2 linked regions of the Homo sapiens genome follow. The protein of the gene in region 1 purifies or fractionates together with the protein of each later gene. This does not show direct contact. Each region holds a gene or a part of one and is shown in the gene's direction. Other genes may lie near its edges.

What was found. Proteins that work in one complex are often made in the same cells at the same time.
Region 2: the proteins of PMPCB (region 1) and PPP4R1 purify together in Homo sapiens (affinity purification with mass spectrometry; 3 studies listed by BioGRID and IntAct, with this or other methods). This does not show direct contact.

The regions. Positions count from the first base shown.
Region 1 is NC_000007.14:103,307,421-103,314,446, forward strand, and holds part of PMPCB (mitochondrial-processing peptidase subunit beta isoform 1 precursor), read left to right. Parts: intron 1-175; coding exon 176-288; intron 289-1,531; coding exon 1,532-1,675; intron 1,676-2,894; coding exon 2,895-3,055; intron 3,056-4,222; coding exon 4,223-4,308; intron 4,309-4,387; coding exon 4,388-4,476; intron 4,477-4,635; coding exon 4,636-4,711; coding exon of another isoform or gene 4,712-4,779; exon of another isoform or gene 4,780-4,786; coding exon 4,787-4,851; 3' UTR 4,852-5,148; coding exon of another isoform or gene 5,149-5,223; 3' UTR 5,224-5,526; coding exon of another isoform or gene 5,527-5,681; 3' UTR 5,682-7,026. Other genes in the region: DNAJC2 (dnaJ homolog subfamily C member 2), read right to left, coding at 5,149-5,223, 5,527-5,681. UniProt on the Homo sapiens protein: Catalytic subunit of the essential mitochondrial processing protease (MPP), which cleaves the mitochondrial sequence off newly imported precursors proteins. Preferentially, cleaves after an arginine at position P2.
Region 2 is NC_000018.10:9,569,555-9,576,580, reverse strand, and holds part of PPP4R1 (serine/threonine-protein phosphatase 4 regulatory subunit 1), read left to right. Parts: intron 1-5,897; coding exon 5,898-6,424; intron 6,425-7,026. UniProt on the Homo sapiens protein: Regulatory subunit of serine/threonine-protein phosphatase 4. May play a role in regulation of cell division in renal glomeruli. The PPP4C-PPP4R1 PP4 complex may play a role in dephosphorylation and regulation of HDAC3.

The DNA.
Region 1 (7,026 bases):
CCTCAAGCTTTGCAACACCAAGGAAATAGGTGTGCTATGTGAGCTTACTCTTAAATAATGGCTTTTAGTGAGTGTAGATAGTTCATGTGTAATGTACATCACATTATACCACCTAGGGTTTATTGTAAACTATATTGCTGCTAGATACATGTGAAAATATTTTCTTTCAATTTAGGTGTTTCCCATGATGAATTGCTTGACTTAGCAAAGTTTCATTTCGGTGACTCTTTATGCACACACAAAGGAGAAATACCAGCTCTGCCTCCCTGCAAATTCACAGGAAGTGAGGTAGGGCAAGCCTTCCAGCTAGTATTTAGCCTTTTGGATTCCTTGTGTTGTATTTACACATAAGTAAACAAAATGTGCATATTTCCAGTAGGAAAAGAATGGAATAATAGGAAAAGGGAAGAGGATGTACTCATTTGCTTACATTCCTTCCTCTTCCGTATTCTTTAACCACCTATTTTTCTTCCTAAGGAAGCAAGGTTTTTTTTGTTTTGTTTTTAAATTTCTCCATTCTAGTCTGAAAGGAAGCAAAGTTTTTAAGAGCAGTTTATAATTTGGTCTTTTTGTGCTTTTTCTTTGGCACTATGCCAATTTACATATTGTAATATCTGGAAGTAATCTTTTAAACCCCGTATTTTGACTTTCACTTCAGGTTTACTCTTGGCTCAGTTTTGCCCACAGTATGTTTTGGGAGGGGGTAGTAACTGTTAGAGCCAGAACTTGCAGGGGATCTACTAGTTATCAACTAGCTTTAAGCCCCACTAGCTGCTTAGTTTGCCATGTTGAGGATGATGCTCAAAGTAGTATCTGGAAAATGCCCTGATATTGGCAGCTGCCTAGAACTGTAGCATTGGCAGTACAAAAATAAACCTGTAACGTCAATATGACATTTCAATAGAAAAGTTCAGATTGAGGCCGGGTGCGGTGGCTTACGCCTGTAATCCCAGCACTTGGAGAGGCTGAGGCGAGTGTGTCACTTGAGGTTAGGAGTTTGAGACCAGCCTCACCAACATGGTGAAACTCCGTCTCTACTAAAAATACAAAAATTAGCTGGGCGTGGTGGTGCATGCCTGTAGTCCCAGCTACTCGGGAGGCTGAGGCAAAATTGCTTGAACATGGGAGGCCGAGGTTGCGGTGAGCCGAGATGGTGCCACTGCACTCCAGGCTGGGCGACAGAGTGAGACTCTGTCTCAAAAAAAAAGAAAGAAAAAGACAAATTCAGATTGACAAACACAAAGGATTGATTTCTACCAGTGAAATGATGCAACCCTTTTGACCAGGTAAACCATGTGGTGCCTGTCTGTAGTAAAATGCTTTGGGAAAAGTAATTTTTCCCTAATTTAGTCTTAATTCTTCTAGATTAAACTCAACAATGTAATGAGGCCTGATAGTTAAAAAATCAAAATAGAGTCCTGGTGTGCATTTTAACTTTGCAGTTAATGGGACTGGTGATTTTTTCCTTGTTAATAAGCATGTTATATAATGTTAATCTTAACTAGAGGTCCTCCTGCTTTATCTTAACTAGATTCGTGTGAGGGATGACAAGATGCCTTTGGCGCACCTTGCAATAGCTGTTGAAGCTGTTGGTTGGGCACATCCAGATACAATCTGTCTCATGGTTGCAAACACGCTGATTGGCAACTGGGATCGCTCTTTTGGGGGAGGAATGGTAAGTGATTTTAAAAGAAATTTTCCATAACAGATGGAAGATTATCATGTTTTCTTAAATATAAGTTCTTTGTAAGAATCCTTTTTTAAAGTGGCAGAATAGAGTCTTGTACTGTGAATTCTGACTTAAAAATATAAACTGATCCTGGATTGCATGTGGGCCAGAAAAAGTTTCTTTTTTTCTTTGCCACAAAGTTTATTAGTGGCAAAATTTGAATAAGGACAGAATTAGCTAGAAGTACTATGTCAATGTTAATATCCTAATTTTAATAGTCAGTAGGCCCTCTATATCTGTGGGTTCCATATCCGTGGATTCAACCAACCATAGGTGGAAAATTTTGGGGAACAAATGGATGGTTGCATCTGTACTAAACATGTATGGACTTTTTTTTTGGTCACTTCCTAAACAATATAGTATAACAACTATTTACATAGCATTTACATGGATTGGGTATTTATCTAGAGATGATTTAAAGTATACAGGAGAATGTGCTTATATGCAAATATTACATATACCATATTACATGAGGGCTCTAGCATCTGTGGATTTTGGTATCCACAGGGATCTGGGAACCAATTCTCCACAGATACTGAGGAACTATACCAAGGTGATGTAAGAACATTAATTTCCTTGTTTTTCACAAGTACATACTAAAGTATTTGGGGCAAGAAGCATCACATCTAAAACTCAGTTGAAAAAACTTGTATAAAGAGAATAAAGCAAACATGGTAAAATAACAGGGAATCTAGATAAATGAAATTCTCTGTACTGTTTTTGCAACTTTTTTGTAAGTTGGAATTATTTCAAAACACATTGTATAGATTTGTCTTTACTCATAGATTTCTCCAAAATACATTTCATCTAAATAATCTTAAGCTTCATATGCAATATAACTTTGAATCTTTAAGCGTATGTAGCCAAGAGTCCTAGAAATTGGGTTGATAATAGCCATCTAGTTTTAGAAGTAGGTATAGCTACTACATTAATTATAAGGACTCATTGCTTTTATAACATGAATTTCTCCAGGGGGTGCACTGGGTAAGTGAGATAATAAACACAATTCTTAGTCATACTGAATTTTAACTCTACTACTGAGATGTTGAATAAAACTAGGAAACAGCCTCTAAGGATATTCACTATTTTCCACACACTCCATTTTTCTTTCTGTATTTTGGACATGTATAATTAAAATTCTCTTGGAATTTTTTTTTCCTTGCAGAATTTATCTAGCAAGCTGGCCCAGCTCACTTGTCATGGCAATCTTTGCCATAGCTTTCAGTCTTTCAACACTTCCTACACAGATACAGGATTATGGGGACTGTATATGGTTTGTGAATCATCCACTGTTGCAGACATGCTACATGTTGTTCAAAAAGAATGGTGAGAAAAATAGCTTTAAGTAATTTAAATTTTGCCTTTAATTCGTTTTAAACTAGTTTTTTATTTATACTTTATGGTGATTTATGGTAATTTTACCTTTTAATTAAGAGACCTAGATAAACAGTAGTTGCCATGTTTTCAAAGGTTGCAGTTGGTTTTTCCTAAGTCTCAAGATGTGAAGCTGATTTATACTATAGAATTTTTTTTTTTTTTTTTTTTTGAGATGAGGTCTTGCTCTGTTGCCCAGGCTGGAGTGTAGTTGTGCCATCTCGGCTCACTGCAGCCTCCGCCTCCCAGGTTCAAGCCATTCTCCCACCTCAGCCTCCCGAATAGCTGGGATTACAGGCGCACCACCATGCCCACGATGCCTGGCTAATTTTTTGTATTTTTTAGTAGAGATGGGGTTTCACCATGTTGACCAGGCTAGTCCTGAACTCCTGACCTCAGGAGATCCACCCTTCTCAGCCTCCCAAAGTGCTGGGATTACAGGCGTGAGCCACCACACCTGGCTGAAAGTTTTAATCTTTCAGAAGCAGGTTAATTCAGAAAGATGATCCTAAAAGTTTAAAAGCCAACTAGAAGTTGTTTGGAAAATATCTCTGAAAGTAATCTGGTTGAAGGGAAAGTAAATCTGAAGTTGCCACTGCTAAAAGAAAACAAAGTATATTGAGTCGATAGATGGGCAGAAAGGCTCGCAGCTTCTTGGAAAACATTTAGCTCTGGTTCCTTTCCTCCACTATTCTTAATTGGTTTACATCTTTCTAAATCTAGTCAACTAGGATGTAATTATTGTTAAAAATTAGATTTAAGTTAGACTCTACTCATTGTTTTCAGAAACCAATGAATGACCCACTGACTTAACCCATAGCATATCAGACTCCAACAGATGAGGACTCATGAAGTCTCAAGATGCTTATAGCATTTCTGAAAATGTGATCAGCCCATTTGTATAAAGCCTTTGTCTGCTAATGTGTAATTAGGCATGTTTATGTATCATTTTTGAGAAATTAATACTGGGGAAAATAATCATTTTAGCTTTTGCTTAGCATTGGAATTAAATTGTAATCACCTGTATGTTTTGTGTAGAAGATGGCATCATCATTCTTAGGTCATTAACTCATGAAATACAACATTTTCCAACTACTACTGTTTTTCCACGTTTTTTAGGATGCGACTCTGTACAAGTGTCACAGAAAGTGAGGTTGCACGAGCCAGAAATCTTCTGAAAACAAACATGTTGTTGCAGCTTGATGGTAAAAATAAAGATATAGGTTCTGTTTTCATATGGTTGATCTGTATTCCAATAGTTAATTTTTCCTTCTCTTTAAACAGGTTCAACTCCAATTTGTGAAGATATTGGTAGGCAAATGTTATGCTATAATAGAAGGATTCCCATCCCTGAGCTTGAAGCAAGAATTGATGTAAGTAGTCCTGAGTTACTATTGGGTCATGTGTAAAAAGATCCTTGTTACAAAAGCTGAGAATATGTATCTTTCATCTTGCTTTAGTTTTAAAAAGTTCCAGGTATAGACTTTGTTTTTACTACAAACAGCTGAATGACAGTGTCTTCCATATTTCAGGCTGTGAATGCTGAGACAATTCGAGAAGTATGTACCAAATACATTTATAATAGGAGTCCAGCTATTGCTGCTGTTGGTAAGCCTGGCTTCTTTTCTTCTATGCAAAAAGTTGGCCAAGTACTTTTAATTAACTCTTCTTTTTAATCCTTAGGTCCCATTAAGCAACTACCAGATTTTAAACAGATACGCAGTAACATGTGTTGGCTTCGTGATTAAAATGCTCCTAATCAAGATTGTTTGAACACATGTATTTATAAAACAGAGCTAGAGAAAAATAAAAATGAACATGTATATACATTTGGAAATTTGAATTAAATACTGTATCATACTTTCAAAGGATAAAAAGACTACCCCTCTGAAGGTTGTTTTGTATTAATGGTCAGTCTTTGTTCTCTGAGAAATTATGTTGGAAGCAGCATACTTTCAAATTATTACCATGAGTATAATTTTAAGAATGAAAATGTTTACAGTATTTTCAGTTTTATTATAAAAATGCACACACAACAAAGATTGTCATTTCTTGGCTCTACTTGCATTCAGCACTTGTTCTTGAGCAGCTTTCTTTGCTTTTACCATCTCGACAAGTTCCTAGGAAGGGAGAAAGGTGTGATTTAAGAAGTTGCGATTTAAAAACAGACATTTTAATCTAGTGTTTGGTGTAAAGAATTCAAGCAACTAAGATAGATAGTACTAAATATACTGATTTCATTATCTGCCAGGGCCTAGAAAGTTTCTAAGGTTGCTCATTTCTTCCTCATAATATTGACCCCATAACTACTGGTTTTGAAATAAGCACTATATTATTAACCACTTAATAGACATAAAATATGAGCTATATCACCCAAGCTACAATTTAAAATACAACAATCTATAAACGCTTAAGTCTGCAACCTTGTATCGTTTCATGCAGTCCTTCTTTGTCCTGCCAGGCACCGCTTCTGCTATTTTTTCCCATCTTTCAGGTGTATTTACTGGGTATGTTTTCAAAGCTTGTTCCAAAAGCTTCTGTTCTTCTGTTGTCCAAGGGGTGAAGTCTGTATATGGACCTGATTAAGAAAAATTTTTATTTGAAAACTGTCTTTGAACATGTTCTCAGACAAGTCTTGTGGTCCACAAGTATTCGCTAAGTGCCCATTTCAATCTGGGATGTGTCATTTTGAAAATAAACTTGTAGAGATGAGAGATACATATAGCCCTCTGAGTGTTAATAAGAGAAAAAATTTCAGATAGCTCACATCCCAGAAAATAAAATCTCAAAGGCTTTTAAAACACAATAGTAAAGATCTACCTTGTACTGTTTATCTCTTAAAAATCAATGTAATACACTCACCAGACTGGTAAAAAGCCATATTTAAATTTATAGTACTGTTGGACTCTTGGACTCAAAAACACAACCACAATTCATTAAGAGTTCTGATAAATCTACTTCCTTACAGAATAGGTAAAAGAGCTTCCTCACAGTTAAACTTTTGCTGGATAGAAACCCTGGAAATCATTCTTGTTTTACACTGAAGGAAACAAACCTAGCAAAATTAAGCCAAGTGCCCAAGGTACCAGTGCTGGAGAGGCAAGCTGAGATTAGATTGTGTTGTAGTGTGGTGTTCTCTTCGTCACATCTGCTAAAATCTTGGGAGCCGATGCTGAACACTTCCAATAACTGCTATTGTGGTTCTTCAACTAAACCTTGTATATTTCAGAAAACATCTAAGATGTGTGTCAGAAACAAATATGTTTCTTAAGGATGTTAAGTATTACACAGTCCACTTGTGTAGGTAAAAGTAGAATGTTAAGTGGTAGAAAGCTGATTTGGTTAAGTTAATGGACTTCTGGCAATTTAGTTATTTCAGACTATGCAGTGACAACACAGACTAATACTACCAGTAGCCTGACTACTACTAGAAACTGCGGCCTGTGAGATCTGTTAAAAGTTAAGCCTAGAAACCAAAGTTCCTTCCCAATTAAAGAAGGAAAAACAAAACAAAACAAAACAAAACCACCACCTATTCAAAACAAAGCAGAGAATTTGTATAATATTTGATGGTACCTAAGGTGCCTAAGAAGCTTTTTTGAAGGTAGCTTTTAAGTTCTAGGAAGTCTTTTGTTGAATTTCCTTGTATTGGTTTAAAGCCCTAAATACCATAGATTTTATTTCCTCTCTTGGAAAAAAGATGGAAGTGACATGGCAGTATTTCCTGCTGTTCTCCAGTTACTTCACAATACCAAAATAAATTAAACGTACTGTTGCAAAACTCCTATGAGAAATCACTATTCAAAAAATGGTGCCAGCTTGCTGTTTAATGGTACAACTGAAGAGGAAGGAGCCTTCCCATTTCCATAAAAGAGGCAAAGGAGTCATACCCACATAGCACTACTGCCAGTCACTCTTGCCTT
Region 2 (7,026 bases), on another chromosome or scaffold:
GTAATCTGTCAGTTAAAGGAGAAAGCCAGTATATTAGCCAGTATATCAGTTTTAAGTATATCAGTCTCATAAGGAAACCAAAGTTTTAAATAAAGCTTAAAGAGTCGGCTGTGATTTTTATTTTTAAATGTTTTTGCATTGAAAATTTTCTATTAAATTTAAATTTTAAAAATTTATTATAATATATATTTAGGGGAAAAACTAATTCAAGCCTAACTTACTAGTATGCGGGAAATGTACACAAACTTTTACAGTTATGCACTTGAAGTAATTTTAGTACAAATATTTGAAACAGTCCCTGCTATAATGCTTGAGTTACCATAGTGTCTTTTCCCTCCCTTGTCATGATGCTAATGGACATTTTCTTCTGTAGGTCTTGATACTGTGCTATTTGCTTTCTTGGTGTTTTGATTTGGCAGTTCTTCTTTCTTCTCTGCTGCCTTGTTTTACCTTTTTGCCCGTTCTCCTACTGTCCTGCTGAATAGCCAAACAAACCTGAGGTACTGTTTTTTGTAAAGGAAGAAAATCACTCAAACCTGTCTTCCTAGCAAGCAAAGTCTGTCAGTTTTTTTGAAAACAGGTGCTGCCAGGACTTTGACAAAAGTGATGATGGTGGGTGGGGAATGTTATCTATTTTTCATTTTTGAAATCAGCATACTTAAAAAATTACCTGTTTATACTGAAGACTGTTACATAACTTCTGTTTTAAAATCTGAAATGGGTCTAGTAAGAAACTATAAATTTGCAGAGAACTGTATAGGACGAGCTGGTAAACTTTCTTCTGTTTCACAACTACTCACTCGGCCTTTGCAGTGTATAAGCAGCCGTAGACATTACATAAATGGACAAGCTTGGCTGTGTTCCAGTAAAACTTCACTGACCTCAACAGTGTGCCTATCAAGGCCATGTTTGCCGCCTACCGGTGTGTAGCATTACTGCAATAGCTATTTAAAGGTAGTTCAATTCCTTGATTCTTCTTCCATTGTAATGAGGTATGTCTTAATGTCCAGGCAATACTACTTGTATTGCTGATCTTCAGTAATATTAGAGCTTATTAAATTATGTTAATGATATGGTAGGGGAAAGAGAGCATTCCTGGCTAAGGAAGGAGTTATGTTAAATATTGTAAAAGCTTTTGCATAGTTTGACAAACTATAAAGAAGTAGTCCTATATATTATTAAATCTCAGAACCATTAGTTTGTTTGCCCTCCCTTAAATAGCACAGTGGCATTTGTTTTAAGCTGTCTTAAACTGTTGTGGTATTAAGATTGATTGATTGATTATGCAAAAGTTAACTGAGCACCTCCTATGAACCAGAAACTGTAAATGGAAAGATAGAACTTCGTTCCTGTCCTCAAAGTTCTCTCAGTTTCTTAGATTCAGGTTTTTCAAACAAATGTCTTACAAAGTAAGCAAGTTTTTGGCAACATATTTCCACCACTGTTTATTGTATAGTGTTTCATCTGACCCTAGAAACATTTACTATCACTTTATTACTCTTTGAAGCATTTATTGATTCCAAACATCTGACTTACACATCAGATCTTTCACTCACCCTGGATCAGGCTGTTAATGCTTCTTTGAAAGTGCTGATAAAGCCTACTTCTCAGAAGCAGAGTTGAAATACTCAAATCTGCATTTTAAAAGTATGTAAAATAAGCATTCGTTATCACATTGTTCTCTGAATGCACCATGTTCTCTTAATTCTCCCTGTTTTTGTACTTGCTGCTCTCTGGGAAGCTTCTTGTTCCATCCATACCCTCGTTTAACAAAGTGCTGTCTTAGATGCACTGAGTTGTCCAGGAAGTACAGAGCTTTTGTCTTCATCATCAGTAGCGCTGTAATGAGAGCACTATTTTAATCCTATCCTTTTGGCTACATATTGGCATCTATCATCCAGTAGCCTCCCGGCCATGCAGTGTGGCGTCCAGCTCCTCCCTTTGTCTCCGCTGGGCCTGGCCCGTTGGTGCACATATTAATCCTGAATGAATTATTCTAGGGAAATATGGATTTGACCTCAAAAATCTGAAGTAACTAAACCACTTTTGCTGGATTTTTCCAGTTTAGCTTAATGCTAACTATATGAAAAAAAATTATTAGCACAAATTTGGAAATATTTCATGAATGCTAAAACTTCATTGAGTTAATTCACAGTACTTGGAAGGTATCCTGGAGCGTGTTTGCTTTTATCTCAGGATACAATACCTCTTTAGCCAGATGTTCTACAAGTCATTTTCTCCTTGAAATACCTGTAATTAATTTTCTAGGCCCATAGTCTCTACTAAGGAACTCTGAAGATATTAATTATAAACTTATGTAGGCACAAAAAGACACTTAAGATTCCTCCTTAAGTAGGTAGTTTCTGGACTGTCCTCTGGTGCTCTTGATACCTACGTCTCTTAGGAGACAGGATAATTCCCATTATACAGAGTCACAAAGGGCCTCAATTTTCAAAAAAAAATTTGTCTTGTACAATAGCATTTCAAAGTCTGACAATTAGGAATATCAGAATTTTAGCATTGAACAGCTTGATTTTGTATTGACTATTATACTTTACCAGGAAAAATTAGAATTTAGAGAATTTATACTTTCGACATTTTTGAAGCCATGCATGCTGTAGTTCTGTCCACAATTTAATACTGTACTAGGGAAACTTTGTCTTCTAGTTTCCTTTTAAAAAAATCATTCTAAGAGTTTTAAGTTTGGACAAACTAACAAGTTTACATTTATCAGACAAACAGTTATTTGACCAGTCATTCTCCGTTCATTTTTGCAGCTGAGAATATTAAAATTTAATTTTAACACCAAGGTGAGCTAGTGATCAAGGAACTTCAAGGCCCTGTAATTCCATCACTTTAGGAGGCTGAGGCAGGAGGATCGCTTCAGCCCAGGAGTTTGAGGCTGCAGTGAGCTATGATCATACCACTTTACACCAGCCTGGGCTACAGAGCGAGACCCTGTCTCTTAAAAAAACAATAAACAAAACAGAAGTTCATTGTATTTATTAGATAGTACATACGAGGTCTTACAAGTTTTACCCATTTGCTCTTCTCTTCCCCCTTTCTGAACAATATCTTATTATAATTTTAAAATTTTAGTTTGAATGATTTCAGAAATTTTGCAAGGATATCACAAAGAACTTCATATATCCATGTAGATTTTCCAAATACTGTTTTACCATATTTGCTTTATTCTTTTTTTCTGAACTCTTTGAGAATAAGTTTTAGACATGATATTCTTTTTACCTTTTTAAAATACTATGTATTTCTTTAAAACACAGATGTTAATATATAACTGTAGTCCAGTTACCAAAATTAGGAAATTAACATTGATACAATACTGTTAGCTAATCTAGCCTTTATTGAATTTTACCAATTGGCCCACTAATGTTCTTTATAACAAAAGGGAAAAATACATATTTTTTAATATGGACAAAATGGGAAATACATAATTCATAAACATGTAGAAGACACATTTATTTTGCATAACAGCACTAGCTTCAGGAGCTCCTTTGGAGTGGGAAAACATCTTACAGGTTATCTAGGCCAACTCCTCATTTTTATGAATAAGGAATAAGTGAGGAATCCTAGAAGTCCTTAAAAGGTTCAGAATTTTATATTAACGTAGTGCCAGTGCGAGAGTAAGAACGTTAAAGTCTGATTTCTTCACACTTGTAAACAATTGTATTATATATGCATACTGTATATTTTGTAGTTATAAGAAGAAAAATACCAGAATTTAAAATGCAGTCACAATGTGTTATGTTTTCAGATGACTTACGTATGTTTTTGTTCATCAGTATTTTAAAAAATAATCACCTGTTTGTGAAAATAATGGTTTTGAAAACAGCATTATGATGAGAGGGAACTTCGTAATTTCATGAGAATGTAGATGGTGACTGTTTAAGTGGGAGCTCACATAGGCATTAACATCACCCTCCTTTTGCACAGTCCTTTTAAGTCTCCTGTTAAACATCTTTTATTGTGTGTATTTAAAGGCACACAGATGCTTTTTCCTGTATTCATCTTACAAATTTACCTACATATTCAGCCATCCTTATTTCCCTTTCATGTTTCTTGGGAAGCAAGTCTCTTCACTGTTTAATCTGTTTTGCTGTGTTTTTGAAGCCCATATTCTTTCCTCTTCTCAGAAAGACATTGCTTTATCAGTTATTTCATCAATCTCTGTGTCTCCAGTTCTTTCATCTCTTCTAACCTATTTTCCTCAGCCTAAAAATATGCTCATCATTCTTTTATACAGGAAAAATGCCTTCACTCTTTGTTATTCTATGCAGTTGTGTTATTCTTTATTAATACTTGTTGCCTCCGCATATGTCAGCCCCACACATCTTTCTGAGTTGATGACCTCCACCTCTGTCTCAGTCTTTACCTCTTTCTCATAGATAATCACCACCTAGAACCCAACGTGGATAGCTAACTCAACCTCTTTCAACCTGAACCTGTTAGCTTTCTTGTGAAACTGTTTTTGTTACCTGCAGCATGCAATAAGTGGAAAAGTCCTGTTGATTTTTGCTGCTGTTTGAATGTGTTCTTCTGTAGTCCTGGAGACACTGCCTCCATCAGAACATCATCACTTCTTACCTGCATGTCTGTAATTCCTGCCTCCTATCTTACCTCTCAACTCATTTTCTACACTTCCTCCAGAATGGTCTTTCTAAAACAACAGATCTATTAACAATTTCCTTACTACATGATTTCCTGTAGTCCAGGATGAACTCCGGAGGTCTGCTGGTCTGGAATACAGTGGTTCATGTGATATCTTTCATCCTTGTCATCCATCATTTCCTCATTGCTGATTCCTGAATGCGTCACACCTTTTCTGCCACTCCGGCCTTTGCATGTCCTGTTTCTCCTTTAGATGCTTTTTTCTTCCCCTTAGCCCCATAAACATGTATTGGTTCTTCTAAGCACAACTCATGTCATTTCCTTGAAGGCCTTTTAATCTTCACTCCCATCTCCTCCTGTGTTCAGTGTGCTTGCATCTGTGCTTACCACCCTGTCTAGCAGCAATTTGCTGATATATCTTCATTTTTTCTGTTTGCCTCTAATTGTAATCTCAAGATCAAGAGCTGCATCTCATTCACATTTGAATCCTCAATACTGATTTCATTTCCTGGCTCTTAGTAGGTGCTCAATAAATGCCTGTTAAATTTAATTGAATCAAATAATAACACTTACAGTCGTACTTCAGATAATAGATGGCAGTAATCAGTGGACTTTAATGAATTTGTACCATCTGTCCTTATCAATTAAATTATGTCCTCATTTTAGGAAAACCTTGGGGAGTAGAGATGAATATTTTAGAAGAAACAGAAGTAATATTTACACTCAAGCAGATTTTAATATATTTTGTGAGATAGCAAATAAGTATCTTTCCTACTACTATCTTAAAATTGTTTTTATTTTATTTTCCTTGTGTAATGTAAGCAAATAGGCTTTAGGTCTCAGCTTTGCAATATGTCGTTGGAGTAGAGAGGTAATACAAATAACCCTAAAAATAAAATAATTTAAATGTTGTTATGTATCTTAAAATGATTGTAGGAATTTCTGTTTCCACTACTTTTCTTTAGTTATTTATTATTGAAATTAGCATGGTGTTATAGAATCCCAGGATTCTTAAATGTTACCTTCTCTAACTAATATATATTGCTTGACTATCTAGACTTATACTTAACAGGTATTTACATCTTTGAACACAGAACAGCTGATGGAGAAAGAAGCATTATAAATAATATACATAAACTCAGTTTGTACAGATAATCCGTAATTTTTAATGTTTAACTTGTCTAAATGCTATATGTAATATCTTTCATCAGTTTTTTTAAAGTAATTATCCTTTCATATTGTTTTTTTCCCACCAAATAAAACAATAAAAGGACCAGAGATCAAGAAGCCCCAGAGGATGTACAAGTCAGGCCAGAGGATACTCCTTCAGATCTCAGTGTTAGTAATTCCAGTGTCATACTGGAAAACACGATGGAAGACCATGCTGCTGAGGCATCCGGGAAGCCTCTAGGTGAAATTAGTGTTCCACTGGACAGCTCTTTACTTTGTACTTTGTCCTCAGAATCTCACCAGGAAGCAGCTAGTAATGAGAATGATAAAAAACCTGGTAACTACAAATCTATGTTACGACCAGAGGTTGGCACCACTTCACAAGATTCAGCTCTCTTAGATCAGGAATTGTATAACTCCTTCCATTTCTGGAGGACTCCTCTTCCTGAAATAGATCTAGACATAGAGCTTGAACAGAACTCTGGGGGAAAACCCAGCCCAGAGGGACCAGAGGAAGAATCTGAGGGCCCTGTGCCCAGTTCTCCAAACATCACCATGGCCACCAGAAAGGAACTGGAAGAAATGATAGAAAATCTAGAGCCCCACATTGATGATCCAGATGTTAAAGGTATGGAAGTCAATCAAGTTATTTATTCTGAAATTGATTAAAAATATTAGTGTCTATCTTAAAAAAATTTCATTTCAGAAAAAATTGTCATTTAATAATGTATTATGGACTGGGCACAGTGACTCATACCTATAATACCAGCACTTTGAGAGGTTGAGACAGGAGGATCACTTGAGACCAGGAGGTTGAGACCAGTCTGGGCAACATAGTAAGACCCCATCTCTACAAAAAAATAAAAAATTAGCCGGGCATGGTGGCACATGCTTGTAGTCCTAGCAACTTGGGAAACTGAGGTGGGAGATCGTTTGAGCTTAGGAGGTTGAGGCTGCACTGAGCTGTAATTGTGCCTAAGTTCAAATGGTGTCAAAGGATCATGCAGCAGCTTGCTCTGATAGTTCTCCAGCCTGGGCAACAGAGTAAGACCCTGTCTATTAAAAAAAGAAAAAGGTAGTATAACCATCATTATCATGTATTTCTAAATTCTCTTGATAAATACAATTAATCTGATTTTCAGGAAATTTTTTATTTAAAATAGGCTCATCGTTGCATTCCTTACTGTAATTTATACAGATTTGTTGATTGACAAATCACTCTCTTTGAAA